6 separate regions of the Homo sapiens genome follow, and all the other regions are reported to be linked to region 1. Evidence: microRNA targets listed by miRTarBase, many of them from high-throughput screens and not tested one by one. Region 1 holds a microRNA gene; each other region holds the end of a gene's coding sequence.

Region 1 (5,072 bases):
AGTGATCGTCCGCCTCGGCCTCCCAAAGTGCTGGGATTACAGGTGTGAGCCACTGCGCTCTGCCAAAATACTATATTTAAATATTTGTTGAGTGGATGACTGGTGGAATGATTTTCTTCTGGTTATTTCTCTGTGTTTTCCAATGTATTTATAACGAATACATGTTGGCGTTACTAGTAATAGGGATCACCTAATTTCTATTTGAATCAGTGTTTGAAAAAGTTTATGAAGGTGTGTCTGACTAAGGCAAGCTAGGATCAAAGGGAGCAGGGTGGCTTGGGGCGGAGACCAGGGGGAATGAGAGGGTGGGAAGGGGTGGGCTTTAATCCTATCAAAGTTGAGTGGGCTCTCACCCTATATAAGAACGCAGCTGCAGTGAACCTTGTTCTTTCTGGCAGACCTGAGGTGTGGACGTATCATTGGCCTCTGTGAGTATTGCTATGTTATTTTATTTTCTTTCATTTTACTTTATTTTTTAGGGTCAGGATCTCACTGTCGCCCAGGATGAAGTGCACAGGTAGGATGATGGCGCCTTGCAGCCTCGACCTCCTGGGACTCACCCTTTTAGCCTCCAGTAGCTGGGACCACAGGCGCGCACCACCATTCCCATGTGCGTTTTTCTGCTTTTTTTTTTTTTTTTTTAGGAGAGATGGGGTTTTCTATGTTATCCAAGCTGGTCTCGAACTCCTGGGCTCAAGAGCAATCCTACCACCGTAGCCTTCCGAGTAGCTGGGACTACAGGCTTGAGCCACTCCGCCCAGCCGGGCTGTACTTTTGTTCTATTTCTGTGATTTTTTTTCAGTCTTAAGGACGAAGGCCCCACTGTCCCTCACACGTGTTCCTTCCTACTTGCATTGTACTCAGTCCTCATGGCTTGCATCTGGAGGCTATGGGCGGGGGAGTGCTTTGAATATCTATACGTGGAAAGCCTTGTTTTTTACTTTTTAAGAAAGGGTCGTTAAATTCGTGCTTTGTAGACCTTCAACAGCTCATCAAGGGCTACTCTCCACCTCCTTGCTTAAAAGCCTCTTCTGATGGGTAAGTGCTTCCACTTGCGATCGCCGCCTTGCCGCATCCCCTCAGCCTGTGGCACTCAAACTGTGGGGGCACTTTCTGCTCTCTGGTGAAAGTGCCGCCATCTTTTGAGTGTTACCGCTTGAGAAGACTCAACCTGCGGAGAAGATACCATTTTGATTGGGTGAGGGGGCGGGTAGCAGGATGGCCCTAGACCCTGCCTATGGCCGTTTCCTCGTGATATAAATTTCTTGGCCGGGGCTCTTGCAGATGGAGCTGCTCACCCTGTGGGCCTCAAATGTGGAGCACTATTCTGATGTCCAAGTGGAAAGTGCTGCGACATTTGAGCGTCACCGGTGACGCCCATATCAACGGATGCCGTGGAGCTCGGTCTTCTGCAGGAACTAAAGAGCCTGTGGTTTCGATTCCCAGCCGGAAACTGTCTTGGGTACAGGTCCCTTACAGCGTCTGGCTGTAATGGCTCCGGAAAACCTGGGGAAGGGAAGGGGGCCTCCTGGGCTCTCACCTGACACAACTAAGGGAATCTGGGTTAGATGGTGAAAGGAAGAGAAGGTTCAGAGGGCGGCTGTGCGCCTGCGCCGGGCGCGGCGGCTCACACCTGTAATCCCAGCACGTTGGGAGGCCGAGGCAGGCGGATCACGAGGTCAGGAGATCGAGACCATCCTGGCTAACACGGTGAAACCCCGTCTCTACTAAAAATACAAAAAATGAGCCGGGCGTGGTGGCGGGCGCCTGTAGTCCCAGCTACTTGGGAGGCTGAGGCAGGAGAATGGCGTGAACCCGGGAGGCGGAGTTTGCAGTGAGCCGAGATCGCGCCACCGCACTCCAGCCTGGGCGACAGAGCAAGACTCATTCTCAAAGAAAAAAAAAAAAAAAAACAGCAGCTGTGACCAAGGGGCTGTATGCACAAAGAAAGGAATGCTTTTTGCTGTTGGTGTTATAATTGATATGTAACTTTCCTCTTCCCCCATAGCAAGCAAGTTTATTGCTGACATTTAACATGTGCTTGGATGATTGGAGGCCAACCTCTTGTAGGCAAGAAAGTCACAGTGATGGCAGATCCTCGCGAGGAGCTCATACTGGGATACTCAAAATGGGGGCGCTTTCCTTTTTGTCTGTACTGGGAAGTGCTTCGATTTTGGGGTGTCCCTGTTTGAGTAGGGCATCACGAACCATCCTGCTTCAAGGGAGCCTGCGGGTCTGACTGCAGCTTCAGCTATGACCTGGAGTTCCCGGGCTTCTCTGCGGGGCACCAGTCTGTATGCTCCATTTTAGATAATAAAAATTGGCATATTCTGGGGTGGGCAGGATACGGGGTTCACCTGCAGATGAACAGGGCAGGAAAAGCTTGATGGGGTGTCGGGGGAATCTGGTTGGCCTTAAAGGGAATTTGGGGTCCTGTTCCTGAATTTGGTAGGCAGCATGCATGTAAGGCTTGAAGTGGGTTTGGCCAGAGCATGGGCTGGAGTGCTTCCACCCTGCTACACGGACAATGCCACAGTCTCACTTTTCCTAACTTTTTTTTTTAATAAAATGTGAACAACATCATGTGTTTCTGGTCTATTGGGTTCCTCTGCCACCCACAAGTGCTGGGATTACAGGCATGAGCCTCATGTCTGGCGTTACTGAACCTTCTTCTATGACCCAAGTACATTGCCTAAAAATACTTGTCAGTATTTTGTGCTTCCCTTCTACCCCTGCTAGAACTTAGAGTTATGCTCTTTGAGAGTTCTGCTCTTTAAACTTCAAACAAGTTTAAAAAGTAAGGCCGGGCACAGTGGCAGCACTGCCGAGGCCGACGCAGGCTGATCATGAGGTCAGATCAAGACCATCCTGGCTCACACGGTGAAACCACATCTCTACTAAAAAATACAAAAACATTAGCCGGGCATGGCGGTGGGTGCCTGTAGTCACAGGCTGAGGCAGAAAGGGCATGAACCCGGGAGGTGGAGCTTGCAGCCAGCCGAGGTTGTGCCACTGCACTCCAGCCTGGGTGACAGCGATAACTGTCTCAAAAAATAAAAACCACCCAGGCTGAAGTGTGGTGGCACCATCACAGCTCCCTGCAGGCCTGAGCTCCCTAGATCAAAAGATCTTCCCATATAAGCCCCCCCTCACCCCACCCTTAGTAGCTGGCACCACAGGAGTGTCCCCGCCATGCTCCACTAATGTTTAGTAGAAATTGGGGTCTCATACATTGGCCAGCTTGGTCTGAAACTTAGGGGGAATCAAACATCCCTCCTTTAGTAGAGATGGGGCTTTACTGTCTTGCCCTGGGTGGCCTCCCTGGGATGATGGGTGTGAGCCACAGTGCCAGGCCTAAGTTCATATTTGGAAGGTTTTTTTGCTTCAGATGGTCTCGTGCTCTCGCTCAGGTTGGAGCGCAATGGCGCAATCTTGGTTCACTGCAACCTCTGCCAGCTTAAGCGATTCTCCTGCCCCCGCCTCCCAAGTAGCTGGGATTACAGGCATAAGCCACCACGCCTGGCTAATTTTTTGCATTTTTTAGAGATGGGATTTCTCCACGTTGGCCAGGCTGCTCTGGAACTCCTGACCCCAGGTGATCCACCCACCTCGGCCTCCCAAAGTGCTGGGATTATAGGCGTGAGCCACCACGTGGGGCCTTCAGTAGGTTCTTAGTTGCTGTTTGCCCTATCACTGGTTTCCGGGTCTGCTGGCCACTATCCCCTGTAAGTTTTCCTATCCCCTGTAGGTGTTCCAAACCCTTGCGGCTGCTTTGCCCACTCCACAGTATCTGAACTGAAGTAAGATCTCAAATTCAAGGGAGTTTTGTTTTGCTATTTGTACCCGCAATTCATAAAGCAGTTGTAGCCTCTGTCCCAATACCGCCACCACTGGTGGGGAGTCCGCCACGGTAACCAGTAAGACTTCTCTTTATATTTGACCTACCTGGGCCTCCTGTCATCTTTTCTACGGGCAGCTTGGGGATTGTTAGTTGAGGGTTTTTTGTTTTTGTGTTTTTTTTTTTGTTTTTTTTTTTTTTTAAAGAGATGGAGTCTCGCTCTGTCGCCAGACTGGAGTACAATGGCATGATCTTGGCTCACTGCAACTTCCACCTCCCAGGTTCAAGCGATTCTTTTGCCTCAGCCTCCCGAGTAGCTGGTATTATAGGCACCCACCACCATGCCCAGCTAATTTTTTTTGGATTTTTAGTACAGATGGCGTTTCCCCATGTTGGCCGGGCTGGTCTCACTAAACTCCTGACCTCAAGTGATCCACCCACCTTGGCCTCCCAAAATTCTGAGATTACAGGTTTGAGCCACTGCGCCCAGCCTTTAGTTGAGTTTCTTAAGCTTGTTTAGGGTTTAGCCTGTATGGCCAGCAGGGTGTAGGTGGGGGTGGTTTGTAAGCAGGGCTGTTTGCTTCAGAAGCAGCTGTGGAAACAGGACTGAATGCAGACATATAAAGAATATTGGGTAAATAACTTTTTAAAAAATTTAGAGATAGGATCCCACTATGTTGCCCAATCTGGTCTTGAAACCTAAACAATCTCTTATCCCAAAGTGCTGGGATTGCAGAAAGCTTAAGGCACAGTTTTACGTGGTAATGGTGGGCCATTTTTAGTTTCTTTTTTGTAGACGATCATGTCATCTAGGCTGGAATGTAGCGGTTCTGTCGAGCTAGGTGTAGCCTCCACTTCCTGGACTCAAGCATTTTTCCTCAGCTTCAGTAGCTGGGTCTATGCATGAATACCCCTTCTGGGGTAGATAGATAGTAGTACATAGAGTAGATAATTTTTTTGTGTTCAGGCGGCACCTTAAGGTTGGTGTAAAAATTCTTGGCCTTCTAAAGAGCTGGAATTAGACATGAGCTGTTGCACCTGGCCAATGGGACAATTATGTCTACAGGACTGAATCAGTATCTGATCTCTGGAGTTGTAAGGTCACTTTTTCTGAAACTGCCTCAGTCTCCTTGCAGGTTCTGGTCTGTAGATCTCCAGTGTGTGGGCTGAGCACAGCATGGGGACCTGATTTCCCACCGGGCAGTGACATAGTTTAAAGATTCTTAGTTCGAAT
Region 2 (5,072 bases), not on the chromosome of region 1:
CTCTAGCTTCCCCAGGGGCTCCTCAGCCACCTCCTGTGACTCCAGAGCGCTCGTTCTCAGCCTCTGGGGCCCAGATAGTGTCCAGGTGGCCTCCTCTGCCTGGCACCCTCCTGACGGAAGCTTCAGCACTTTCCATGATGGACCCCAGCCCCTCGAAGACCCCCATCACCCTCCTCGGGCCTCGCGTGCTTTCTCCCACCACCTCTAGACTCTCCACAGCCCTTGCAGCCACCACCCACCCTGGCCCCCAGCAGCCCCCAGTGGGGGCTTCTCGGGGGGAAGAGTCCACCATGTAAGGAGGTCACTGTGTCCGGGAGACTCTGGAGAGAGGACCTCTGCCAGTGGCCCAGGGTGTGTGCAGGGCAGCTCCAAGGATGAACCTGGTGGGGATGCCTGGGCTCCCTCCTGCAGGGGCCCTGGTGAGGATGGAAGACCCCCAAGGCTGGATGTAACCTTGTTCCCAAGAAGTGTTTGGAATGTGCTGTAAGAATGGAGGAAGTCGTTTCCACTGTCAGCATCCTCCCTGGACCGCGTGGCTGGCTCATCTTTTGAGAAGGGTTGGGACTGCCAAGTTCTCCTGGAGGAAGAGTTGCGTCCGGCTGGGATTCCACTCACTGGGACTGTACCGCCAGGTGTCATGCGTCTCTCTGAGGTTTCCTGATTAAAGGTTGTCTCGGTTTCCCCATGCTGCACTGCTCATTCACCGCTTACCTGTGGGAAGGTGGGAAACGTGACCCCAAGCCCACAGGTGGTAAGTGAGCATCCACCTTTACCCCACTGCTGGGGAGAAAAGCTGGCACCAAATTGTGACTGGGCTGGGGAAGGGTCTCCTGTAAGCACTTGGCGGCCTTTTATATTGGGAGACTTCTTTTTATTTTTTTCCCCAAGATCATGATTTTCTTTTCTGTTTTCTTTTTTCTTTTTTTCACTTTTATTTTAAGTTCAGGGGTACATGTGCAGGTTTATTATATAGTTAAACTCGTGTCACAGGGGTTTGTCATACAGATTATATTATTTCATCACCCAGGGATTAAGCTTAGTACCCATTAGTTATTTTTCCTAAGTCTCTCCCTCTACCCTCCCTCCACCCTTCCATAGACCCCAGTGTGTGCTTTTCGTGTCTATGTGTCCATGTGTTCTCATCATTTAGCTCCCACTTACAAATGAGAACATGCGGTATTTGGTTTTCTCTTCCTGCGTAACTTTGCTAAGGATGATGGCCTCCAGCTCCATTCATGTTCCTGCAAAGGACATTATCTCATTCTTTTTTATGGCTGCATAGTATGTACACCATGGAATACCATACAGACACTGGGGGGCTTCCACAGTGAGAAGGGAAAAGATGATGGAGAGGACTTGCTTCTGGGAAGGAACCTCTGAGACGAAATGACAGACCAGCAGTTTCTTTTTTGAGATGGAGTTTCGCTCTTGTTGCCCAGGCTAGAGTGCAATGGCAAGGTCTTGGCTCACTGCAACCTCTGCCTCCTGGGTTCAAGCGGCTCTCCTGCCTCAGCCTCCTGAGTATCTGGGATTACAGGTGCCCGCCACCACACCTGACTAATTTTTTGTATTTTTAGTAGAGTTGGGGTTTCACCATGTTGGCTAGGCTGGTCTCGAACTCCTGACCTCAGGTGATCTGCCCACCTTGGGCTCCCAGAGTGCTGGGATGACAGGCCTGAGCCACCGCGCCGGGCCGGGCCAGCAGTTTCTTAAGACGTGTTTTCAGCAGGAACACCTGTGGGCAGCGGGGAAGGAGCAGGGAGGGAGAGTTGGGGCTGCTGGGCCTTCTCGAAGCCTCAGCCAGCCCCCTCTGGGAGCTCTGGGGTTAGGCTGGCCCTTCGGAGCTGTCCTGAGCTGGAGCTACGGGGCAGGGCTTTCTGCCTCATATTGACCAGAGAGCTGCTATCAACCACCTTCCCAGCAGCTGGGAGACTGATCCTTCAGTCCTAGTGGGGGGATCTGGGCAGTGTAGCACAGTGTGCATGAGAGACGGAAAGAGGACAGTGCCGTCATGAATGGGGGGATGCGGATTTGTGATAAGGGAAGTGATGTGGGGCTGGAAAGCAGAAGCTGCTCTGTCACCAAGTCACCACTTGCTACCATTTTTTTTTTTTTGAGACAGGATGTTGCCCTGTCATCCAGGCTGGAGTGTAGTGGCATGATCACGGCTCATTGCAGCCTCAACCTCATGGGCTCAAGCCTTCCTCCCACCCCAGCTTCCCGGGTGGGTGGGATTAGAGGCACATGCCACCACGCCTGTCTAACTTTTAAAAAAATTTTGTAGAAATAGGGTCTCGCTGTGTTGCCCAGACTGGTCTTGAACTCCTAGGCTCAAGCGATCCTCCCACTTCAGCCTCCCTGAGTACTGGGATTACGGGCCTGCAGCCCCACACTTGCTACCACTGAAACCCATGGAGGCTGCGGAGTGAAAGCACCCCCGGGCATGGCCCATCGCTTTGCCGAGGCCGCCCTCTTCTGAGCCCTTCTCTGACCTGCTACTCACTCTGTGTCCCAGGGCGAAGGGTCTGCTGAAGTGTTTCCTGGCTGCAAAGGCAACCTGGTATCCAGTCCAGACGACAGTGTAGTCCTGGCCTCTAACCTGCGGCTGGTGGCAGGAATAATAAATGTGGGAGATAGGAGCATGGAAACCAAACAGTTTAGAGAGGCAAAGGACTTAGAGGCCGTTTTGTCCAGTAAGATACAAAGGGTCATGGTCATGAGCGGGGTCTGCAGCCAATGAATCTCAAGTTGGAGCCTTGCTCAGCTGGACTAGCTGTGGGATATTAGGTCTCTGCTCCCTTATTATTATTATTTTTTGAGACAGAGTCTTGCTTTGTCACCCAGCCTGGAGTGCAGTGACATGATCTCGGCTCACTGCAACCTCCACCTCCCAGGTTCAAGCGATTCTCCTGCCTCAGCCTCCCGAGTAGCTGGGATTACAGGCACACGCCACCATGCCCAGCTAGTTTTTGTATTTTTTGTAGAGATGGGGTTTCGCCACGTTGGCCAGGCTGGTCTCAAACTGACCTCAGGTGATCTGCCTGCCTCGGCCTCCCAAAGTGCTGGGATTACAAGCATGAACCACCGCGCCAGGCCTCTGCTCCCTTATTTGGACAATGGGGATAATAACAGGCCTACTTTATGGAGTTGTGACAATGACGTGTGATAATGCCTCCATAAGTCTCAGTGGTTTGCACTTGTGGCCCTGTGGCCCCTAAACTTGCTACAGCCCACCCGGCTTGGTGATGCCACGTGGGGTCTGATTTCAGGATAAAAGCGTAGAATTCTCATTGCCCCCATGCTGCAACTTTTCAAACAAGTCCATCTGTCAAAATGGTAGTGGCTAAAAATTAGTGCCAATTTCCTCATTGCTGTTCCTTTATGCAATAAGTTAGCATGCAATTTAAGTTTAATACTAGTCCCCCCCACCTGCCTCTGCAAATAGGACTCATGTCAATGATGTTCATTTTGAATGTTTAAAAAAAAGGAGTCCGGGTGTGGTGGCTCATGCCTGTAATCCCAGCATTTTGGAAAGCTGAGGTGGGCGGATCACGAGGTCAGGAATTCAAGACCAGCATGACCAATATGGTGAAACCCCATCTTTACTAAAAATACAAAAATTAGCCAAGCGTGATGGTATGTGCCGATAGTCCCAGCTACTCAGGAGGCTGAGGCAGGAGAATCGCTTGAACCTGGGAAGCAGAGGTTGCAGTGAACCAAGATCGCACCACTGCACTCAGAGCCTGGGTGACAGAGCGAGACTCCATCTCAAAAAAAAAAAAAGATTGGTTGGGGGTGGGGCAGGGGGACAGCTGTAAACACTTTTCCCAAGTTTTTCCGAGTATAAAAACATGTTTAACTGGACTGTTCCCCACCCAATATTACAGCTGAGAAGCAGAGGCTCAGAGAAGTTAGGAGAGTGTTCTAAGGCTGCACAGATTATGACGGCTGAATGGGAAGACAGCCTCATTCGTCTGACTCCCAGTCCAGGTGTTTTTCCTTCGCTTCACATTTCACCTGATGAGGTTCTCCTGTTGGTGTTTGGAGAGACAGCTGATGGCCCACAGTTTAGGAGGGGCCCTGTGAACACTATTTTAGTTTGGGTTCCCCCTAAAGCAGACCCAGAGATAGTATTCGGGTGAGAGCCAAGAGAAAAAGACCAATCAAGGGGCATTGATGAGCCGGTTGCAGCTATGGGCAATTGGCACTTTGTCCTAGGGACCTTCTGGAAGACTGTGGAGCCCATGCCTTGCCTGAGGATTGTCCCCCAAGGGTGTGAAGATGCACCAGTAGTTGTCCCTCAACTTTCGTCCCTCACTGGTCGAGCCTTGTCCTGGGCTTTTGGCTCTCTAGCACACCCTGCTGGCCTTGCCATAGTACTGAGCCTGCCTTTCTGCTTGTCCCCAGGCACCAGAAGGCTCTTGGGGCAGAGGTGCAGGAGCCATGGGTGGAGGGCTGGGTCAGGGCTCTCACTGGGCCATGTAAGCACATGTTCTGTGCACGGTAAACCGCAGTGCACCAGGAGGCAGGAGTCCACCTGAAGCCCCCAGCGGGGCGCGCAGTGCCTTTAATGGGATAAGCTGCTCTGAATTCTCGGGAGCCTGTGCTCCAACAAGCAAGGGAGTGTTTGTTCTTGGATGGAGACACCTTGCATTTTTCCTGAGCTAGGATTCCACTTTTAGGGTTCTGAGAAACAGAACAGAATGGGGGTGTGTCGGAAGCTTATTCTGTGGCCTCAGTTTCCCTTGCACCTGGCAGCTTCTCAAAGGGCAGAATGATCAGACCTGTTTCAAGAGACCTGATTTTAAAGGTTATTAGATGCATGGCCTGAAGGCAAGTCACGGTAGGTTTCTAAGTAGGACAAACTTACAGAGGCTCAAAATCGCTGTAATTCACTTTTTTTTTTTTTTAACTTACCCTCTTTTTAAGATCTTTCCGAGGCTGGGAGTGGTGGCTCACATCTGTAATCTCAGCACTTTGGGAGGCCGAGGTGGGTGGATCATGAGGTCAGGAGTTCCAGACCAGCCTGGCCAACATGGTGAAATCCCGTCTCTACTAAAAATACAAAAATT
Region 3 (5,072 bases), not on the chromosome of region 1:
CCTTCGGTGAGTTATTCACCCTGAGCCACGGGCTTCTATGTGGAGAGGGAGGTGGCGCCCACGAGCAGGGTTTTGTGAGAATCTGGGGAGAGCTACAGTGACCCCAGCCCAGGCTGGGCTGACGCAGCACCTGCTGCCACTGGGGTGGTATCTGTGGGGATGCTCTGGGCTGTTGTGATGTGAGGAGCTGGAGGTCCCTCTCCTTCCCTCCCAGGCCCTGAGGAGGAAGGCGCCTTTCCCAGAGCTCTGTCCCAGTCTCTCTGGTCATTGCTTTTAAAAATAACACTGTGGGGCTGGGCACAGTGGCTTACACCTGTAATCCCAGCACTTTGGGAGGCTGAGGTGGGTGGATCATCTGAGCTCAGGAGTTCGAGACCAGCCTGGGCAACATGGTAGAACCCCATCTCTACCAAAAGTAGAAAAAATTAGCCGGGCGTGGCGGTGGGCACCTGTAGTCCTAAGTACATGGGAGGCTGAGGTGGGAGGATCACTTGAGCCTGGGAGGCAGAGGTTGCAGTGAGCTGAGATCATGCCACTGCACTCCAGCCTGGGTGACAGAGCGAGACCCTTTCAGTAAGTAAATAAATAACACCATGGGCCTATCACAGAGACCCTGAGCTTTCCACTTCAGCATGAACTGCTCCTGGCTGGTGGCTCTTAGCGTTCTTTGGTGGGATTTTCTAGTTAGTACTGAGCTGCTTTTGTGATTTGAGCATTTCTGGATGGGTGTGGAATTGGAAAGTCAGATGTGCAGGGCTTGCGCCTTTTCCTTTTGGATCGCGCGTCTCCTGACATGAGGCTGAGCTCACAGAGCTGGCCTCGAGGCGCGCTGTCCCCAGCTGATGAGACGTTTCTGTCCACAGGTGAAGAAGCATCTGCAGGACCTGTCCGGCAGGATCTCCAGAGCTCGGCACAACGAACTCTGAAGGCATTGGGGAGCCCAGCCCGGCAGGGAAGAGGCCAGCGTGAAGGACCTGGGCTCTTGGCCGTGGCATTTCCGTGGACAGCCCGCCGTCAGGGTGGCTGGGGCTGGCACGGGTGTCGAGGCAGGAAGGATTGTTTCTGGTGACTGCAGCCGCTGCCGTCGCGACACAGGGCTTGGTGGTGGTAGCATTTGGGTCTGAGATCGGCCCAGCTCTGACTGAAGGGGCTTGGCTTCCACTCAGCATCAGCGTGGCAGTCACCACCCCAGTGAGGACCTCGATGTCCAGCTGCTGTCAGGTCTGATAGTCCTCTGCTAAAACAACACGATTTACATAAAAAATCTTACACATCTGCCACCGGAAATACCATGCACAGAGTCCTTAAAAAATAGAGTGCAGTATTTAAACCACCCGCTTGTTGGCTGGTCACTAAGTGTCCTGGTGGCTGGGGCCGGAGCCAGTGCTCTTGAAGGGATCGCGTCATAGCCAGCTTCCCCTCTGGGCCCTGTGGGTCTTTGCAGCCAACCTCCTTTTCCCGTGAGACGGCCCGGCCTGATTTAAAGCCAAGAGCGCTTGAGTTGAGTTTGAGGGGAAGATGTGGAGCGTGTGGTTCTGTGGACAGTCAGAGACTGTGGCCTGGGGGCAGCGTCTTTCAACTCTCACCTCTGCAGCTCAGGGACCTCGGGAGACCTCACCAAACCTGCAGGGCCTCCGTGTCCCTAAGTGTGCTGTGTAAATGCCCCATCTCATGGGGGAGAGACAGCCACGGAGGCCTTCCTCTGACCATAGCTGATGGACTGGCGGTTGCTCAGGTCCGGCTCCGAGAATGTTCCTGTGTCTGAGCCTGGAAGAGGCTCGGGTCTGGCTCCAGGCGTGGTTCCCTTCCCGTGTCTGAGCCTGGAAGAGGCTCGGGTCCGGCTCCGAGCGTGGTTCCCTTCCCGTGTCTGAGCCTGGAAGAGGCTCGGGTCCGGCTCCGAGCGTGGTTCCCTTCCCGTGTCTGAGCCTGGAAGAGGCTCGGGTCCGGCTCCGAGCGTGGTTCCCTTCCCGTGTCTGAGCCTGGAAGAGGCTCGGGTCCGGCTCCGAGCGTGGTTCCCTTCCCGTGTCTGAGCCTGGAAGAGGCTCGGGTCCGGCTCTGGGCGTGGTTCCCTTCCCGTGTCTGAGCCTGGAAGAGGCTCGGGTCCGGCTCTGGGCGTGGTTCCCGTGTCTGAGCCTGGAAGAGGCTCGGGTCCGGGTCCAGCTCCGAGCGTGGTTCCCGTGTTTGAACCTGGAAGAGGCTCCACCAGGCGTATTGTGTTTTGACTGCAGCTGGATCTTGGCTTGACTGTTGAGATCTGCCAAACATCCGCTAAGCTATCATTTCTGAGAAAGGTCAAGGCTAGAGGCAGCATGTCGGGAGTTGGCGCATCAGGGTTGGAAGGGCCCCAGGGTACAGCATGTGGGTGCCTGTTCCTTTGTGGACTTGTGTGTGTGTGGCTGGTGGGGCGGGGGGTGGATTCTGGTTCTTTTTTTTCCCATTATCCTGAGAGCCTTAAGGTACTCAGTGTGTTGGTGAGACTCAGCCCTGTCATCTAGCAGAAGTGTGTTCCTTTTCATTGCTGTATAGTATTCCATTGCATGACTGTCCTGTGCTCTGATTTTAATGCACTTTATTGTGGGTGGATATTTGAGTTGCTTCCTTTCTGGGGTAATAACACTCACTTGGAAATAGCTGTGGTGAACACTCGTGTGGGGGTGGGGGTGGGGGCCAACTCTAGGAGCACCTAATGGATCTTACGAAGCGTGTTGTCCAAGTATAGAGATGATTCCAAAGTGGTTGGACTGTGTTTCTTTCTCCCAGCTGGGTGGAAGGAGAACACTAGTGGATTGCTGAGACTTGGTGCTCGGTATTTTTAATTATGGACAGCCTGGCTGGCGTTTTGTGGTGTCTAATTGCGGAGTAGCGTGTCTTACTGTATAATGGCCTCTTTTGTATGTGGGAGACCATGGTGTTGAGGGGAGGCAGTTACACAAAAAACCCAGATACCGAGTGTTAGTTCCATGGGTGTGGCTGGTCATGGTGCGCACTCACGAAGGATGTAGGTGATGCCCTCCACTCCGCAGAGCCAGTCCCACAGGGGTACCCATTCTGACTCCTACCACCGCAGCTCCCTACCTCCCGCCTGCCATGGGTTCCACGTGCATGGCTCTGGGCAGTCTGTGTCTTTGCGTGCGTCTGTGTATGTCTGCGTGTATCTGCTTACATTCGCTCAGCATCTGAGATTCACCCAGGCTTTTGCGTGGATCAGCGGCAGACTCCTGATTGCCGCGTGGCGGCCTGTTGTGTGGGTGTGTGCCGCGTGTGTATCCAGTCCCTACTCAGGAGTGTACGTTTCCAGTGTGGGTTGCAGTCAGGATCCATTTCTCCCTTAACTTTCAGATTATTTGCTGCATAGGCTTTTTTCTCCTAATTTGGCGCCTTTGTCAGAAATCAACTGACCTACCTGTGTGGGTCTGTTTCTGTTTGTCCTTACGCTCTTGCCATTGCCACACTTTAGACAAGGTCTTGCTCTGTCCCTCAGGCTGGAGTGCAGTAGCGTGATCTCAGCTCACTGCACCCTTGACCTCCCATACTCCAGCAATCCCCTCGCCTCAGTCTCCTGAGTAGTAGCTGCGACCACAGGCGTGTGTCACCACACCCGGCTGATTTTATTTTTTTTATTTTTATTTTTTTTGTAGAGACGGGGTTTTACTATGTTGCCCAGGCAGGTCTTGATCTGGGCTCAAGTGATGCTCCTGTCTCAGCCTCCCAAACTACTGGGATTACAGGTTGTAGGTGTGAGCCATGGTGCCCGGCCGCCACACTGTCTTGGCTACAGTTGGGTTTATAATAAACCCTGAATCGAGGTGATGTGCATTTTCCAACTCTTCTTTTTAAAGATTCTTGTGGCTGTTTATGTCCTTGGTGTTTCCATATATGTTTTACAATCAGTGTCTCAATTTCTACCAAAAAAACATGCCTTCTGGAATTTCAATAGCAATTCCCTTGAACGCATTTTTGAATACCTTTTCTGAATGTCTTGAATACATGTTGGGAAGAATCGGTGTCTTAACAGTCTCCAGTGTCCACGCGTTGACTGCCGTGTGTGACTCCAGTCGGCGTCTCAACAGTCTCCAGTGTCCACGCGTTGACTGCCGTGTGTGACTCCAGTCGGCGTCTCAGCAGTCTCCAGTGTCCACGCGTTGACTGCCGTGTGTGACTCCAGTCGGCGTCTCAGCAGTCTCCAGTGTCCACGCGTTGACTGCCGTGTGTGACTCCAGTCGGCGTCTCAGCAGTCTCCGGTGTCCACGCGTTGACTGCCGTGTGTGACTCCAGTCGGCGTCTCAACAGTCTCCGGTGTCCACGCGTTGACTGCCGTGTGTGACTCCAGTCGGCGTCTCAACAGTCTCCGGTGTCCACGCGTTGACTGCCGTGTGTGACTCCAGTCGGCGTCTCAACAGTCTCCGGTGTCCACGCGTTGACTGCCGTGTGTGACTCCAGTCGGCGTCTCAACAGTCTCCGGTGTCCACGCGTTGACTGCCGTGTGTGACTCCAGTCGGCGTCTCAACAGTCTCCGGTGTCCACGCGTTGACTGCCGTGTGTGACTCCAGTCGGCGTCTCAACAGTCTCCGGTGTCCACGCGTTGACTGCCGTGTGTGACTCCAGTCGGCGTCTCAACAGTCTCCGGTGTCCACGCGTTGACTGCCGTGTGTGACTCCAGTCGGCGTCTCAACAGTCTCCGGTGTCCATGCGTTGACTGCCATGTATGACTCCAGGTATTGAGTTCATCTTCAACTTCTCCCAACAATGAACTGGAGTTTTCTGTGCATGTGTCTGGCATGTTTTCCTTTAGATCTAGTCCTAGGTGTTCGATATGCTATTGAGGACTGTGTATTTTTATTTCATTTGTCACCTGTGCGTGGTGCTTTAATCCTGTGCCCTAAACTCCCGCCTTGGCCATGGCGGTGTTTCTGTGGACTCGTGGGGTTTCCGTGTGCACACGCGTGTCCTCTGTCTGACAGTGGCTTTGCTTCCCCTTGTCAGTCTGTGCCTCGGCTTCTCACTGCACTGGTGAGGTGAGCCGGCGCTCGCTAATCTTATTCCCAGTCTCGGTGAACATGGGCTCAGTCTCT
Region 4 (5,072 bases), not on the chromosome of region 1:
GTGGGTTATATGTCTCAGCCCAAGTCCTTGCAGCTTTTAAAGCCATCCATATTGAGTTCTTTGGTACCGCCTCCAGTTTCTGAATCATCTCCAAGTAGGACTCCCACTTGTAAAAAGTCACCAATAATCACAACATGTAATTCAGCAAAACTTCAGCCAACATCTAGTCAAACAAATCTTGCAAATAATCAGAATCTGAAAGCATCTAAGCTCCGCCCCCCCTCAGGCTCTTTCAAACAAAAACAAACAAACAGCCCCCAACTAGAGCCTCAAAGCTTCCAGGCCAAGACAAGCATCCCAAGGCCACTAACACAACGAAAAGAAATCATGCAGAATCCAAATGGCAATTTGCATTCTGGGGATTGTTTGGCCTCTAATCGATATTCTCGTCTTCCTAAACCAAAGATACATTAAGTACATAGCCATCACCTGCCAATTTGTTTCTTAAAAACAATCTCTTCTGTAATAGCTTTATGTGCAGCTTGCAGCTTGCTACTGTGGTGGAGGTTCCATTGAAAGCCTGCAAATCTTAAATTAAAATGTGGAAGCTTCTACTAGTTTGGCTCCTTCATTTTATATCCTGGTTGAAGTACATGCCATTTGAGCATAATTATCTCAGGTAAACACGAAAGTTTGCTTACCCATTTCAGAGGCCTGCCAAAGGCCCAAATCATGTTATCCATCCCTCTCCACGTCAGAAAATTCATAATATTTTACTGAGCAGGCAAGAAGTGTGCTTTGCTGGTTTAGTCCTATTAAGGTCTGTATTTATTGTGGTTGTCAGAACCTCACCCCTTTTCACTTGTCTCTCCTGTGAATATGGCTACTATTTTAACTAAAGATATGGTGATAATGGAAGATGGTAGTCTGTAAGCAGAGTTCTGGCCAGTGTTTTGTATATTTAAAAGGTCTATGCAAAAGCTTTGTGATGAATAAAGGAGATTAGGCTTTTAATGGAAAGTCTATGTAAGTTTTATTTTTCCTTGCCAGGGTCAGTCAGCTAATGTTACTGTTGATTCATTTCCCAAATTCCCCAGACTGAAAGTGTTTCTTATTACATATAAATCAGTTATATATTCCTTTACATCTTGTTTTACAAACACATGTGCATGCACACACACATATACACACACATACCATTTATGTTTGTATTTGTTACTGGGTAAATTTTGGAGCGCTTGAGATACACCTTGAAACCTGTACCTAAAGATGTATTCATTTGTAACATATGTTGGTGCTAGAGTTTTGCTGGTAATTCAGGCTTGAACCCTTAGGCTTGTGGATCCATGATAGCCATTTTAAGGTTCCACAGCATTATGTCTTTAATTGTAATATTTATATTTATTGATTTTCTGCTAATATCTGAAGACTGAAATAATGAACTTGAAACATTTGCACAAAACTTTGATGGGGTATAAATATACCATATATAGGGATTGTAAACTATTTTCTATAGCAAAACAAGTTAAAATATTTTGAGAAAAATAACAAATTTAAATAAGACTATCTTGAGAAAGCTGGAGTTCATAATATTCTCCCCCTCCCCCATCTCCAGTCTCCTAGGTTTCCCTTTTCTGTGTTTTTTGTTTTTTTCTGTTTGTTTTTTGAGACAGAGTCTTGCTCCATTGCCCAGGCTGGATTACAGTGGCGCAATCTCGGCTCACTGCAACTTCTGCCTCCCGGGTTCAAGCGATTCTCCTGCCTCAGCCTCCTGAGTAGCTGGGACTACAGGCATGTGCCACCATGCCTGGCTAATTTTTTTGTATTTTTAGTAGAGATGAGATTTCACCTTGTTGGTCAGGCTGGTCTCGAACTCCTGACCTCAAGTGATCCACCCACCTCGTCTATGGTGTATTTTTGAAAGACAATTTTTTAAAGGTAGATTTGGGAAAAAAATAGAATTGAAGATGGGAAATTTTGTTTTATTAAAAAGGTGCTAGAAGATGTTTCAAAGACAATATTCTTATTTTAATACGCTGTAGAAGGTAGGTGTGGAACCTCCATGCTACCATGTGCACAAACCTAATTATGCTTTGGGTCACTTGTCAGTTCAGTAAATCTGCCTTCCTCTTCTCCCAAATCATGTCATCTTTAGGTTGTTCACCTGCAGCTGCTTTAAATGAATTAGTATCTTTCAGATAGATAACCTTACAAGGAGAATGTTTGTTTTGAGCAGCTGACCAAAAATATATCAAACAGGATTATGGCCAAAAAGTCACTCAAATTTCTAGAGATTCCTTTAAAAGATGTATGTTGATGAAATTGCCCCTTTATAAGAAAAACAACAGCAAGTCTTTTAGTAGAAATTTGAAAGAAGTGTTTGCTACCATTTTGACCCATTATTCCCTTACCTATCAGATGAATTTGCCATTCACTGGATAGAAACCATTCTTGGATTTGGTAAGAGGTGAGCAAGACAAATCTTGTACCATACTCTTATGTACCAGCACTTCTGATGGAGAAGCAGTGAAGTTCAGAACGTTCTTCACATAGTCCAGATACTGTTAGAGTCAGGCAAATCAGCAAAGCACTTTGTTATGGAGATGACCCATGATGGCTGCAGTTGTAAGTGGGCATACATGTTCTATCATTTTGAAGGAGAAAGAAAACCGTTCTCACATGTTGCAAATATGTGAATCATACTATATTCCCCTAAAGTAAAACCAGTGACTTAGTGGTTTTTGGTTTATTTAGAAGTTGGTTTAGACCCTTATGAAACATTATTTACGAGTTGGCCTTATCCTTAAGGGAAAAGTTCTAAATTTTTAAATTTATTTTTAATTCCCTAGTCTGAGGGAAATGTCTTTATTGTCCATTACATAAAAATGTTGACTCCAGTAATTTATTTTTCTCTATTTTTTCCTCCATGTATTTACTCCATTTTTCTCTATTTTTTCCTTCCCTGATGGATTTGCAGAAATGTTAACCAATTAGCTCAACTTTTCTCTACCTTTGTTGAGTCTTAATCTTTTAGAAGATAGGCTTATCGTATATTTATGAAGCATAATATATTAAAAGAAAACAAATCTAGGATGCTTGCATGACATAAAGTATTTGCCTGCAGTTTTCATTAAAAACTGCAAGAATATCATGCTTGTCTGCTTCTTAGTAAATGTTAAGTCTGAAATGGAAGTGAGGATGTAACTCTACTGAATAATCAAAGATCATCTTAGATTTGGCTTGATCTGTGTTTATTGCTTCTATTAATGTAAATCAACTCTGTGCCAAATCCTCCTCCACAAACCATTTATTGTCTTAGTTCTAGTGGTATCAATGAAGATAGTTACAGTATATGAATTCTAAGTCCTGAGGAAGAAATTTTATGGGGTTTGTTAAGTTTCACATTCGTGAAAGAGGAAATTAGTAGAGTATTCAGACTTTGATATTTGGCTGTTAATGGGATGCATATCAAATTTTTAAAAGAAGGCTTGGCCTAAGGAGTTTATTGGTACAGGTGCAGATGATTTTAAGGCATTAAAGGATTATAGAGTTATGTCATTTAGACTGTTTCTAATAACTGAGACCATCTAACATTTTTCTTTTGGAGTCTCATTTTTATTTGTGCAATATTTTCAGGCATATAGGCTACTGTTCATTGTATTTATATATATATTAGAATTTACTAAGTACTTTAACAAGTAAAAATCTGAATATGAAAGAAAATATCAGATTTGCACTTTAAATGAGCTTAATTGCTTGAAGTTGTGCCTGAAATATCGAATTGCCTCCTATTGGGTGTGGCTTTGTTGAAATAAATTTGTAATTGTTGCTGTTTGAAGATATCAGTACAGCTGTTCACAGAAATATATTCCCAGCATGTCACTTTTCCATTAAAGCACTAAGTTTTCTTTGAATGTTCCATTGTTCCGATAAGTATTTTACTTTTTTCTCAGTACATCAGAGAGAGCGTGATCCCCCTACAGCTGTCACTTCCAAATGTTCCTGTAGCATAAATGGTGTTACAGACACTGAGGTGCACTCTTGGTTTCTGAGCAGAGTTGTCATACTGGTTTCCTGGTCTCTAGGGCACTGGGGATGTACTTTGAAATCACCGAACAGGCTTGCAATTAAGATCAATAAGGCTGCAGCACCATTTCAATTTACTTTCCATCTTACCCAGTAGTTTTTGTGTTTTTAAATTCGTTTGGGTGGTTATGTTTGCATGCTTAAGCACACATTTGAAAATTAATTATAGCTGTACTACCCGATGTTTTTCCTTGGGGATGATGGCCTTGTTCCTTTTTAAATTCTGATGCTTGAATTCTATTTTCTAGTGATTTTTCACATCTCCCTTTAAGTTTTTGCTGCAGCAATTTGAGAGAGTACTTTTGATTAAATGATTCTGATGGTGGGCACCAATCTACAACTATGTCATTAACTGAAGATACATGTTTTAATCTTGTTGGGAATAAGCTTACCCACTTTCTCCTTGGTAAAGCGTTTACTTAACAAAATAATACCCGAGAATGTAAGGTCTCTAAGTCATTACTAACAAAGAGCAAAAATAATATCTGCAGTATTGTTTTTCCCATTGATTTTAAGTCAGTTTAGAGTACAAACTGTATATTAGAATTTGCCTGTAAAATGAATTCTAAAAAGCAGATGTAAAGTCTCTCCTGAAAATGTTGGCATAGTAAATAAAAATAAAGTTCATAATTATAAAAGTTCTCTTGTCTTTCTCAACATTGACTCCCATAGTTTGCTTTTTCTTTGATATCTTTTTTCCCACAAAGATCTAAGATACTGTTCATTTGCTTATGTTTTTCCCAACTCTGATACTTTATTTTACATGCTGCCTTCACACACATCTTGACACCCCAAGCCCTGATTGAGTAGGAGTTGATCAGTATTTTGTTGTTGTGTCTTCACAAATTCTGTAAGAGATCTAGTACTTTCGTTTCCATTGTAATAAAATACCTGCTTTATCTTAGAATATTGGGATAATGGTTAATGGACATTTCAAGAAACATTAGCACCTTGGATTTAGAATGCTGTACAAGGAAGAAAACACTTGTAATTTTAATTATTTTGTCATTGTTTTTAAGCAGTATACAAAATAGCTTGAGGCAAGA
Region 5 (5,072 bases), not on the chromosome of region 1:
AACGGAAGAAAGGCAAATTGGTCTTACTCTCTTGGAGCTGGAATACACGCTTCCATTCCTGCCCTTGGATTTCAGGATCCCAGGCTGTTGGGTCTCAGGACGCCAGGACCTACACCAGCCTTTCCGTCACCGCTGGGGTTCTAAGGCCTTTGGGCTAAGAATTATATCATCAGCTTTCCTGATTCTGAGACTTTGGGACTTGGACTGAGCCATGCTACCAGTATCCCTGGGTCTCCAGCTTGCAGACAATCTGTTGTGGGACTTCTCAGCCTCTGTAATCATGTGAGCCCTTTCTAACTCATAAACCCTCTCTTATATATCTATGTATCGATTGGCTGTGTCTCTCTGGGGAACCCTGACTACGTATACTTTTGTTTGAATTCAAAGTATTTATCCCTACCTGATATTACATCCTATATCTGTTTGTTTTCTGTTTTTTCCATTAGAATACAAGTTTCATGGGGACAGGGACTTTATGCATTTGTTTACTGCTGTATCTTAGGCTCAAAGTTGGCACTCAATAAATATTGGTTAAATAAGTGAATTACAAGCAGGTTGGATTATTAGGTAATATGGTTCGCAGTGTGGGACTCCTGAACTCCAAGATGTCTTTGAAAGTAGCCATTTTTTTTTAATTTCTAATGGTTTAGTCAGACTACGGATTACTTAATAACAGGGACTATAGTTCATTCATGGATATATCCCCAGAATCAGGAACAGTTTCTAGAATACGCTTGAGTGCTCAATAGACATAGCTATTATAGTTAATTGAAATGGAATTGGCAATGTGGGAAATAAGAAATCACATTTTTGGCCAGGCACAGTGGCTCACACCTGTAATCCCAGCACTTTGGAAGGCCGAGGCAGGAGGATCACTTGAGGTCAGGAGTTCGGGACCATCCTGGCCAACATGGTGAAACCCCATTTCTACTAAAAATACAAAAAGTAGCTAGGTGTGGTGGCGTGTGCCTGTGATCCCAGCTACACGGGAGGCAGAGGTGGGAGAATCGCTTGAACATGGTAGAGGTTGCAGTGAGCCAAAATCATAACACTGCACTCCAGGTTGGGCAACAGAGCAAGACTCCATCTCAAAAAAAAAAAAAAAAATCTGCTGGGCGCGGTGGCTCATGCCTGTAATCCCAGCACTTTGGGAGGCTGAGGCAGGTGGATCACGAGGTCAGGAGATTGAGACCATCCTGGCTAACATGGTGAAACCCCGTCTCTACTAAAAATACAAAAAAGTTAGCCGGGCGTAGTGGCGGGCGCCTGTAGTCCCAGCTACTCCGGAGGCTGAGGCAGGAGAATGGCGTGAACCCGGGAGGCGGAGCTTGCAGTGAGCCGAGATCGCGCCACTGCACTCCAGCCTGGGTAACAGAGCGAGACTCCGTCTCAAAAAAAAAAAAAAAAAAAAAAATTAGCTGGGCATCTTGGCGGACGCCTGTAGTCCCAGCTACTCGGGAGATTGAGGCAGGAGAATGGCGTGAACCTGGGAGGCGGAGGTTTCAGTGAGCCGAGATTGCACCACTGCACTCCATCCTGGGTGACAGAGCAAGACTCTGTCTCAAAAAAAAAAAAAAAAAAAAATCACATTTTTCTCAGAGCAAAGTCTTTGTGATACTAAATCTGGATAAACGCAGTGGAACACTGAGGACGTTTATGCATAAGGACAGTAATCACGAAATTATCTTTGTATACATTGTCCATTAATGACTACTGCTATTTACTGAATTGAGCTCCCTCAGATTCATCTTTTGAAGCCCTAACCCCTAAAGTGACTATATTTGGAAATAGGTGCTTTAAAGAAATAATAGTTAAGGTCAAATGAGGTTATGAGGGTGGAGCCCTAATCTAATAGGACTGGTGTCCTTATAAGAAGAGGAAGAGGCCGGGTGCGGTGGCTCACGCCTGTAATCCTAGCACTTTGGGAGGCCGAGGCAGGCAGATGACAAGGTCAGGAGTTCGAGACCAGCCTGGCCAATATGGTGAAACCCTGTCTCTACTAAAAATACAAAAATTAGCCAGGCATGATGGTGGGCACCTGTAGTCCCAGCTACTTGGGAGGCTGAGGCAGGAGAATTGCTTGAACCTGGGAGGCAGAGGTTGCAGTGAGCCGAGATCCATCGGGCCACTGCACTCCAGCCTGGGCGATAGAGCGAGACTCTGTCTCAAAAAAAAAAAAAAAAAAAAAAAAAAAAGGAAGATGACACCAGAAGTGTAAAAGCAGAAGACAGGCTCTATGAGGACACAGGGAGGAGGCAGCCATCTGCAAGACAGGGAGAGAGGTCTCACCAGAAACCAACCTTGCCGGCACCTTGAACTTCCAGCCTCCAGAACTATAAGGAAATAAATTTCTGTTGTTTAAGTCTGAGTGGCTAAACAACAGTTTAAGCTGCTGTTATGGTAGCCCAAGCAGACTAATACAACGCTTAAGGATTTCAGTCACTGAGTGGAACCACCTTAGAATGTGAAAGACAATGAGGATATACACACAGCCTCCTTCCCCTGTGTTTGGAGGGTGGCTTCAAATTCCTTCTGTTTTATGTGCTGTGTAGGAAAAAAAAAATCTGTAAAATTATGTGAGTTTGTAATTGATAGATTGGTTCTCTTTTGTGCAAATAGTGCTTATAGTTTAAAAGTCCTAGAAAAATTAATTCACAGTCACATTTTCTGTATGCAACTACATTTATGTAAGTGAAAACTTGGTAGTTTGTTAGCTTGTTCATTTTTATTTTTCAAGTATTATGTAAACAAAAAGAACCTTGGTCTGCCAGAATTTTCAAAGAAAATTGGCAAAACAAGATTTCCCATAGTAACAACCATACATATAGCTATGTTCAGTGACTAAATGGTGTTTATGTGTTTCTTAAGCAATGGAGTTCATTTTGACCAATTGTCTGTTAAGAAGTGCCTAAGAAAACCGCTTATTCATTTTCCACATCCTGTTTGGCAAAGTGTGACACATAGCAGTAGAAAACAATAATATAATCTTGGGATGCATATGCAATCAGTGCACAGAGAGCTGTCGTATCAGCCTTCAGAAGAGCATTTAAACACTGCCACACGCTGTCCGTCTGTTTGTCCTGCAACCAGGTTCTCCCCTTGGTCTCAATGGAAGCCTGAATCACAAGCACTGCCACGTTCACAAAGCTGTTAATTCTTCAAAACACCAAATGGTATTCAAAAAGGGAAGTATAGGCTGGGCACGGTGGCTCACACCTGTAATCCCAGCACTTTGGGAGGCCGAGGCAGGCTGATCATGAGGCCAAGAGATCCTGGTGAAACTATCCTAGCCAACATGGTGAAACCCTGTCAAGTAAAAATGCAAAAATTAGCTGGGTGTGGTAGTGCGCACTTGTAATTCCAGCTACTCGGGAGGCTGAGGCAGGAGAATTGCTTGAACCTGGGAGGCGGAGGTTGCAGTGAGCCGAGATTGCGGCACTGCACTCCAGCCTGGTGACAGAGTGAGACTCCGTTTCAAAAAAAAAAAGTATAAAAATCTGAAGACTCTAGTGGTATAATCTAATTAAGTTTCTATGAAGCACATGATTGCAGTCATGTCAAAGCAGTTTCTATGAGCACACTGTTATCTGTTAAAAAAGCAAACAAGGCTGGGCACAGTGGCTCAGGCCTGTGGTTCCAGCACTTTGGGAGGCCGAGGCGGGCAGATCACTTGAGGTCAGGAGTTTGAGATCAGCCTGGCCAACATGGTGAAACCCCATCTTTACTAAAAATACAAAAAATTAGCCAGATGTGGTGGGTGCCTGTAATCCCAGCTACTTTGGAGGCTGAGGCAGGAGATTTGCTTGAACCCAGGAGGTAGAGGTTGCAGTGAGCCAAGATGGTGCCATTGCACTCTAGCCTGGGTGACAGAGTAAGACTACATCTCAAAAAAAAAAAAAAAAAAAAAAAAACAAGGAATAATAATAAATTAACCTTAGCTTACTGGATGACCACCATCATATATGCAGTCTGTTGTTTACCAAGATGTTGTTATGTGGTACATGGCTGTATTTTATTGTTGTATTCTACAGTGCATAATAAATGGTGAGATTCTCCTCAAAGAGTGGCAGAGAAAGGATTCAACTCCATTTTCTCTGACTCCAGTGCCTGCGCGAACATTGGAGACTTTGCTGTCATGAGCGTTTCTCACGTACAAATGCAGGCAACAGTGAGAGGAAGTTGTCTTGTTTTTGAACAGGCCTTGTTTTTCTTGGATGCTTTTGCTTAAAATCCAACAGCCAAATGAGGAAACTGTAAAAGCAAAACAAACATTTTTATTGCAGATGAACCCACATACTGATTTTGGCTTGATCTCTTGAAACAGCCTAAATGTCTCATTACAAAGACCTTAGAAATTCTTTCATAAAATCTGAATTGGAAGAGATCTTGGATATATAGGTTTTATTTCATCTAACGTTTTACATGGATTGTTGATAAATGGCCATCTGGCTTTTATTTGAATGCCTCCAAAGACAGAGGACTCACTACTGCCATATGAAGTAGCTCATTCCATTTGGCAGACAGTTGAGATTGTTAGAAATTTATACTGCACCTCCCCTGGGCCTAGTTAAATTCTTTGGAGAAGTGTAGAGAAAAAGTATTTTTCTTCTACATGCCAGTTTTTTTTTTGGTTTTGTTTGGTTGGTTGTTTGTTTTGTTTGAGATGGAGTTTCGCTCTTGTCTCAGGCTGGAGTGCAGTGATGCAATCTCAGCTCACTGCAACCTCTGCCTCCCGGGTTCAAGCAATTCTGCCTCAACCACCGGAGTAGCTGGGATTACAGGCACCCGCCACCATGCCCAGCTAATGTTTGTATTTTTTAGTAGAGACGGGGTTTCACCTTGTTGGTCAGGCTGGTATCAAACTCCCAAACTCAGGTGATCCACCCGCCTCGACCTCCAAAACTGCTGGGATTACAGGCGTGAGTCACTGCGCCCGGCCTACATGCCGGTCTTTCAAGTGTTCGAAGAGCCTTCTTAGGTCTCCTCTGGCCTTCTCTTCTGCAAGCTGTGCATGCGCTGAGTTCTGAAGTGGTGCCACACCACAGCCTACCATACAACGTCACTGCATGTGG
Region 6 (5,072 bases), not on the chromosome of region 1:
TAAAAAGCATGTGCCTGCTATTGTTTTTGTTTCTTTAGTGTCTAGTAAGGTTTGAAAGACAACAACATAGGATCCCTGTGCAAGGTAACACAATTCCCAGTCACTCAATTTGCTTCTGTCTTGGTTTGTTTCAGGCTCACCCAATACACCTCTCCAAGTTCATGTCCTGTGTCTCACCTTGGGCTACTTCATCTTCGACTTGGGCTGGTGCGTCTACTTTCAGTCTGAGGGTGCCTTGATGCTGGCTCATCACACATTGAGTATCTTGGGCATTATCATGGCCCTTGTGCTTGGGGAGTCTGGCACAGAGGTCAATGCAGTCCTCTTTGGAAGTGAGCTTACCAACCCCTTGCTACAGATGCGCTGGTTTCTCCGGGAAACAGGGCACTATCACAGTTTCACTGGAGATGTAGTGGACTTCCTCTTTGTGGCTCTGTTCACAGGAGTGAGGATTGGTGTGGGAGCTTGCCTCCTTTTCTGTGAAATGGTCTCCCCCACGCCTAAGTGGTTTGTGAAGGCTGGGGGAGTAGCGATGTATGCTGTGTCTTGGTGTTTCATGTTTAGCATCTGGCGCTTTGCATGGAGGAAGAGCATCAAGAAGTACCATGCTTGGAGAAGCAGGCGGAGTGAGGAACGGCAGCTGAAACACAACGGACATCTCAAAATACACTAGCCAAGGCTTGCTCCAGATTATGGATTGGGTTAAGTCAGCCATGGGAACCAGGTTGGAAATATGACTGTTACATAATTACACTTATAACAAACTTAGGTTTCAATAAAGGGCTAAATGTATTGATCAATTTGGTCAGTCTTCAAGCCGAGCATATACCAGTATTAAAACACTAACTTCTACAGTAGCACAGTTGTAGAAAGTGAGAATACTCCATGGTAGTTGGGAATAAGTGAGAACTGTGAAGTGAGTACAACTGGCATTTGTTTTCATTTGTGGTGACCCTGGGTCCTCCTGTCCCTGGGAGGTTTGATGTTCAGGCAGTTTAGAAAGGAACTCGAAAAAGATTAGTGCTATTTCTTGTTCCTTTGAGAAGTAACTCTTTCAATAAACACTTATTTCTGCTTTCCATATAGCAATTTATCTAAGTTTACCCCATTTACTATAAAGTGAGGGGCTTACAGGAAGAGACACGCCTTTGACATTCTGAACATTAGATCGGGGAATTGGGTCGCTTAAACAGAGGGGCATAGGAGGGTGAGAGTGAAACTGGCAGTGAGGGGGAGGGCTACTTACTGAACCTCCTATACCAACTGTGCCAGAGGTGCCCAAGACCACTGCCAGGTTCTGTAATTCTCTGGGAAGACTCAGTGGACTCAGCATATAGTCTTACTTATAGTTTTGATTTATTATAGTGAAAAGATACAAAGAAAAATCGGTAAAAGGAAAAGGCACCTGAGACAAAGTCTAGGGTAAAGCAAGCACAAGTTTCCAGAGTCCTCTCCCAATGGAATCACACAGGATGCACTTAATTCCCCTAGCAGTGATTTGTTACGACATGTGAATGAGTTGTCTACTGGACAAGGTCACTACAGACTCAGTGCCCAAAGTTTTTACTGAGGACAGGTCATCTAGGCAGGCTTTCCCTGGCAGATAGCAAAATTCAAGACTCTCAAAAGGAAAGCAGGTGTTCAGCATAAGCCATATTGTTTGCACAAGCAGTTCAGACACAGTAAGCCAGTCTTATCAGTTAATTGTGGGAGCCCCTCCAAAATCTAAGTTCCCAAATGCCGGCCAGTGGCCAACCCTGTAATCAGGCCTCTCCAAGGATAGCAGTTTAGGCCTGCTATGTTAACTCTTTTCTGCACAAAACCTATAGAGTTAGGGCTTTGGATCTGAGATGAATGAAGTGTGGGTAGATTTACTGAGTCCTGTTATATGGGTTCTGCCCTACCAGGAAAACTATGCCAGTTCTCAGGGCTTTTGTGCATTAATCTCCTAGGCATTTGAGGCTATGACTAAATTCCATAGGGATTTATCATGTGGATTCCACTGTGCTTGAGATGGCAGTTTAGATTTCAGCTCTGCTGTACATATTGCAAACTAGAGCCAAAGACTTTAAAGTGTGTACTGGCCTCAGGGGGATGAGGTTAATTTTTTTTTTTCATTTTAGATACTTTCCCTTTTAGTACTCCTCCTACTTTTCTTATTTTTACTAAAAAGGTACCACTCTATGAACAAACTAATAAAACAAGGCCAGTCTTGGAAGGAAAAAAATAATAATTCTTAGTGTGACAGTCTCCAAGAGAAGCAAGAATATAAGCTTAGAACAAGGGGTTAAGAATCCAGAATTCCTGGGTTCTTTTAACTAATTTTGCTACTCACTTGCCACTTTGGAGAGCTACTCACTCACTTTGGATAGGTTACTTGTTTCTTCTTTGCCTGAGTTTAAACCTATTGTGAATGAATGAAATACCCTGTAGTATATTTCATAAATACATTATGTGGCATTTTATTAATGGAGGTCTTTAATGTAGGGCTTTTATGGAAATATGAAGTATTTATGTATTTATTGATTATTTATTTTTACCATGTTATTGAAGTCAATGGTGTTTGATTAGCTCAGTGGGTGAGCAAGCATATGGTGCTACTGGAGTCAAGGCTGGTCAGTAGGAAGCATCAGTCCATTCCATGGCCACTGGTAATCTAACGTAATGAATGGTGTCTTTTGTTGTTGTTGTTGTTGTTGTTGTTGTTTGAGACAGAGTCTTGCTCTGTCGCCCAGGCTGGAGTGCAGTGGTGTGATCTCAACTCACTGCAACCTCCGCCTTCTGTGTTCAAGTGATTCTCCTGCCTCAGCCTCCCGAGTAGCTGGGACTACAGGCGTGTGCCACCATGCCTGGCTACTTTTTGTATTTTTAGTAGAGACGGGGTTTCACCATGTTGGCCAGGCTGGTCTTGAACTCCTGACTTCATGACCCACCCGCCTCGGCCTCCCAAAGTGCTGGGATTACAGGTGTGAGCCACCGTGCCCAGCCATGAGCGGTCTTGAAAATGAAAAATGGTCTTGGCCACAGAAACCAGGTATGAGGGAGTGGTTGGAATGGTATAAAGTCATCACTGTTAGGGAAACAGTAACTTTAAATGCATGTTAACAGTGGGTCTTTAAAAATGAATGTCATTTGGTTAAAGAGTTTTGCTGGGCATTGAGATAATCTGACAGCATCTCCACTTCCTGTTTTTTTTCTTAATCTCCACTTTTTTTTTTTCTATGATGAGCGCCCCTAAAATGCTGGTAAGCTTCTTTCCAACAAAATTGCGGTCAAAGTAGGATGCTGGGGAATGCTGATTTTAGCAAAAGCTTGTAGAAAAGAGTGGCCTGGCACATGAGCTTAAAAAAAAGAAAAAAAGCTGGCTCTTGAATTTTGGCACAGTGCAACCTGTTCCATACCAGACAAATGAACAGGCTTAATCTGGTACCAATTCTTTTTCTCTCTTACTCCTCAGAAGTGAAGGGACTGCAGATCTTGTTGTTTTGGGGACACTTTCATGGAACTGTATGTAGGTTTTTTTGAATGGTGAGAAATCTGAATAATTGGTAAGGGGAAGGGAATCCCTCATTTCAGCTTTTCTTGATGTTGTTACTAATAACTATGAAAAAACTTCTGAGAGAACAATGTGAACTGAAGATGACTCAGCAGTTAAGACAATGCTAAGTTCTGAAACCACAGGTAAATGAAGGGCTAATTAATGTGTGGTATACTTGGACAAAATGAAGTACTCATTTGCACTGGATTACTGTGTAATGATAACGAACACTGTTCAAGAACGATTTATATTTCCATAAGATTTGTACTAAATTTTATAAAAGTAAAACAACTTTTTATAAACCCAGAGTCTGTCTTTATATTTATGTGGTGGTTTTGCCAAGAAGTTAAAAAAAGCCTTTTGACCTGTAGAAATGTTGACCTGTATTCATACTTACTAGTGAATATCTCTAATCTGCTGTTCATTATCCATCATTCCCCCTATTTTTTTTTATTTTGGGGGGTAACAGTTGACATACACAAAACAGTTTGCCAAAAGAGAGAGGAAGAACCTTAATGTGTTTCTTGTTCTGCCACCTGTTTGGACACTTGTCTTGAAAATGTTGATGTCAAGTGAGTTGACATCAGAGACATCATCTGAAGACAGCTGGAGGCCCTGTCTTGAGGACTGTACTACCAATGCCTAAAACAGTCTGGGATGCATAGTAGATACTTAGTAAGCATGTTGAAAGAATGGACAAGAGGATGAGAATGTGGTTTAGAATCATCCCCATTGGAAAACCTCCTCAAAGGTTTTCCCAGTGGATTGGGTCATCAATGTCATTTTTCTAAGTAAAGTACTACGGACCCTGAGGAGTGTGTTCTACCCAGACTGGCTTGACTTTCTGAAGGCATCCTATAGTTACAGCCTTTAGAACAGTTGAGCTATCGGCAGCTTTAAAGAGGCTTTCAGTTTTTTTTTTTTTTAAATCATTAATGCTTTGTAGGTGACTATAGAGATTTTCATCATTTAAAAAAATTAGTTCTGGAATGAATAACCACTGGCTTAATTCAATCTTTTGCTTACCATCTTCTGAAGCTTTCCCACAGCAAAATGCCTTCTTTGCTCACAGCTAGAACCGTGGGTCTGTTTAAGTTTGGAAAGATCTTGAAAGCAGCTTGCCAAGAGGTTTTGTATGCAAGGAAGAGAAGGTGAATTAGGAAACTTTCCCAGTTTGTTTTATTCCTGAAGCTTAAGTATTGAGGCTTCCCTCAAGTATTAAGGGAAGAGAGGAACTCCAAAATGCATGATTTGATGAGTCATTGGGTTCAATTAATTTTATACTTACACTGTAACATTATTAGGATAGGGGAAAATAAGATATTTAGTACTTTTAAGAAAGATTTATTAAGTTTGGGGATAAGGTTTGCATTTTGGTCAGTATATATATGTATATATGTGTGTATATATATGTGTATATATATGTATATATATGTGTATATATGTATATATGTGTGTATATGTGTATATGTGTGTGTGTGTGTATATATATATATATATATATATATATATATATATATATGAATGGGATTCC

What was found. Region 1 holds the annotated microRNA hsa-miR-372-5p (CCUCAAAUGUGGAGCACUAUUCU, at 1,307-1,329, shown strand). A microRNA usually pairs through its seed, bases 2 to 8, with sites in the 3' UTR of a target mRNA and lowers its output. Matches are read on the target gene's strand: a 7mer-m8 pairs with bases 2 to 8, a 7mer-A1 pairs with bases 2 to 7 and ends in A, and an 8mer does both.
Region 2: miRTarBase lists VWCE as a target of hsa-miR-372-5p. Seed matches in the 3' UTR shown: 7mer-A1 at 548-554.
Region 3: miRTarBase lists LRPAP1 as a target of hsa-miR-372-5p. Seed matches in the 3' UTR shown: 7mer-m8 at 2,585-2,591.
Region 4: miRTarBase lists CCSER2 as a target of hsa-miR-372-5p. Seed matches in the 3' UTR shown: 7mer-m8 at 599-605, 7mer-A1 at 1,475-1,481, 7mer-A1 at 1,604-1,610 and 8mer at 4,313-4,320.
Region 5: miRTarBase lists RHD as a target of hsa-miR-372-5p. Seed matches in the 3' UTR shown: 7mer-A1 at 3,883-3,889.
Region 6: miRTarBase lists TLCD5 as a target of hsa-miR-372-5p. Seed matches in the 3' UTR shown: 7mer-A1 at 1,038-1,044, 7mer-m8 at 1,955-1,961 and 7mer-A1 at 2,706-2,712.

What each region holds. Positions count from the first base shown.
Region 1 is chr19:53,786,589-53,791,660 of GRCh38, forward strand. It overlaps MIR372 (microRNA 372), which reads left to right and starts at 1,302; the gene lies at 1,302-1,368. MIR371A (microRNA 371a) reads left to right here and starts at 1,087; the gene lies at 1,087-1,153. It overlaps MIR371B (microRNA 371b), which reads right to left and starts at 1,154; the gene lies at 1,089-1,154. It overlaps MIR373 (microRNA 373), which reads left to right and starts at 2,117; the gene lies at 2,117-2,185. It also overlaps LOC124904767.
Region 2 is chr11:61,253,899-61,258,970 of GRCh38, reverse strand. It overlaps VWCE (von Willebrand factor C and EGF domains), which reads left to right. Exons shown (of 20, transcript NM_152718.2): 20 at 1-685. The coding sequence ends at 296. Among named protein-coding and RNA genes, the nearest start is that of PGA5, 15 kb to the right of the region's middle.
Region 3 is chr4:3,508,828-3,513,899 of GRCh38, reverse strand. LRPAP1 (LDL receptor related protein associated protein 1) reads left to right here. Exons shown (of 8, transcript NM_002337.4): 8 at 864-5,072. The coding sequence ends at 926. Among named protein-coding and RNA genes, the nearest start is that of LRPAP1, 21 kb to the left of the region's middle. RefSeq lists an enhancer at 3,852-5,051.
Region 4 is chr10:84,513,854-84,518,925 of GRCh38, forward strand. CCSER2 (coiled-coil serine rich protein 2) reads left to right here. Exons shown (of 10, transcript NM_001284240.2): 10 at 1-4,664. The coding sequence ends at 414. Among named protein-coding and RNA genes, the nearest start is that of CCSER2, 190 kb to the left of the region's middle. RefSeq lists an enhancer at 560-729.
Region 5 is chr1:25,328,077-25,333,148 of GRCh38, reverse strand. It overlaps RHD (Rh blood group D antigen), which reads right to left. Exons shown (of 10, transcript NM_016124.6): 10 at 2,704-4,251. The coding sequence ends at 4,225. It also overlaps a transcript of RSRP1 not described here. Among named protein-coding and RNA genes, the nearest start is that of TMEM50A, 7.7 kb to the left of the region's middle.
Region 6 is chr11:120,329,843-120,334,914 of GRCh38, forward strand. It overlaps TLCD5 (TLC domain containing 5), which reads left to right. Exons shown (of 3, transcript NM_001198671.2): 3 at 135-3,844. The coding sequence ends at 673. Among named protein-coding and RNA genes, the nearest start is that of ARHGEF12, 4.0 kb to the right of the region's middle.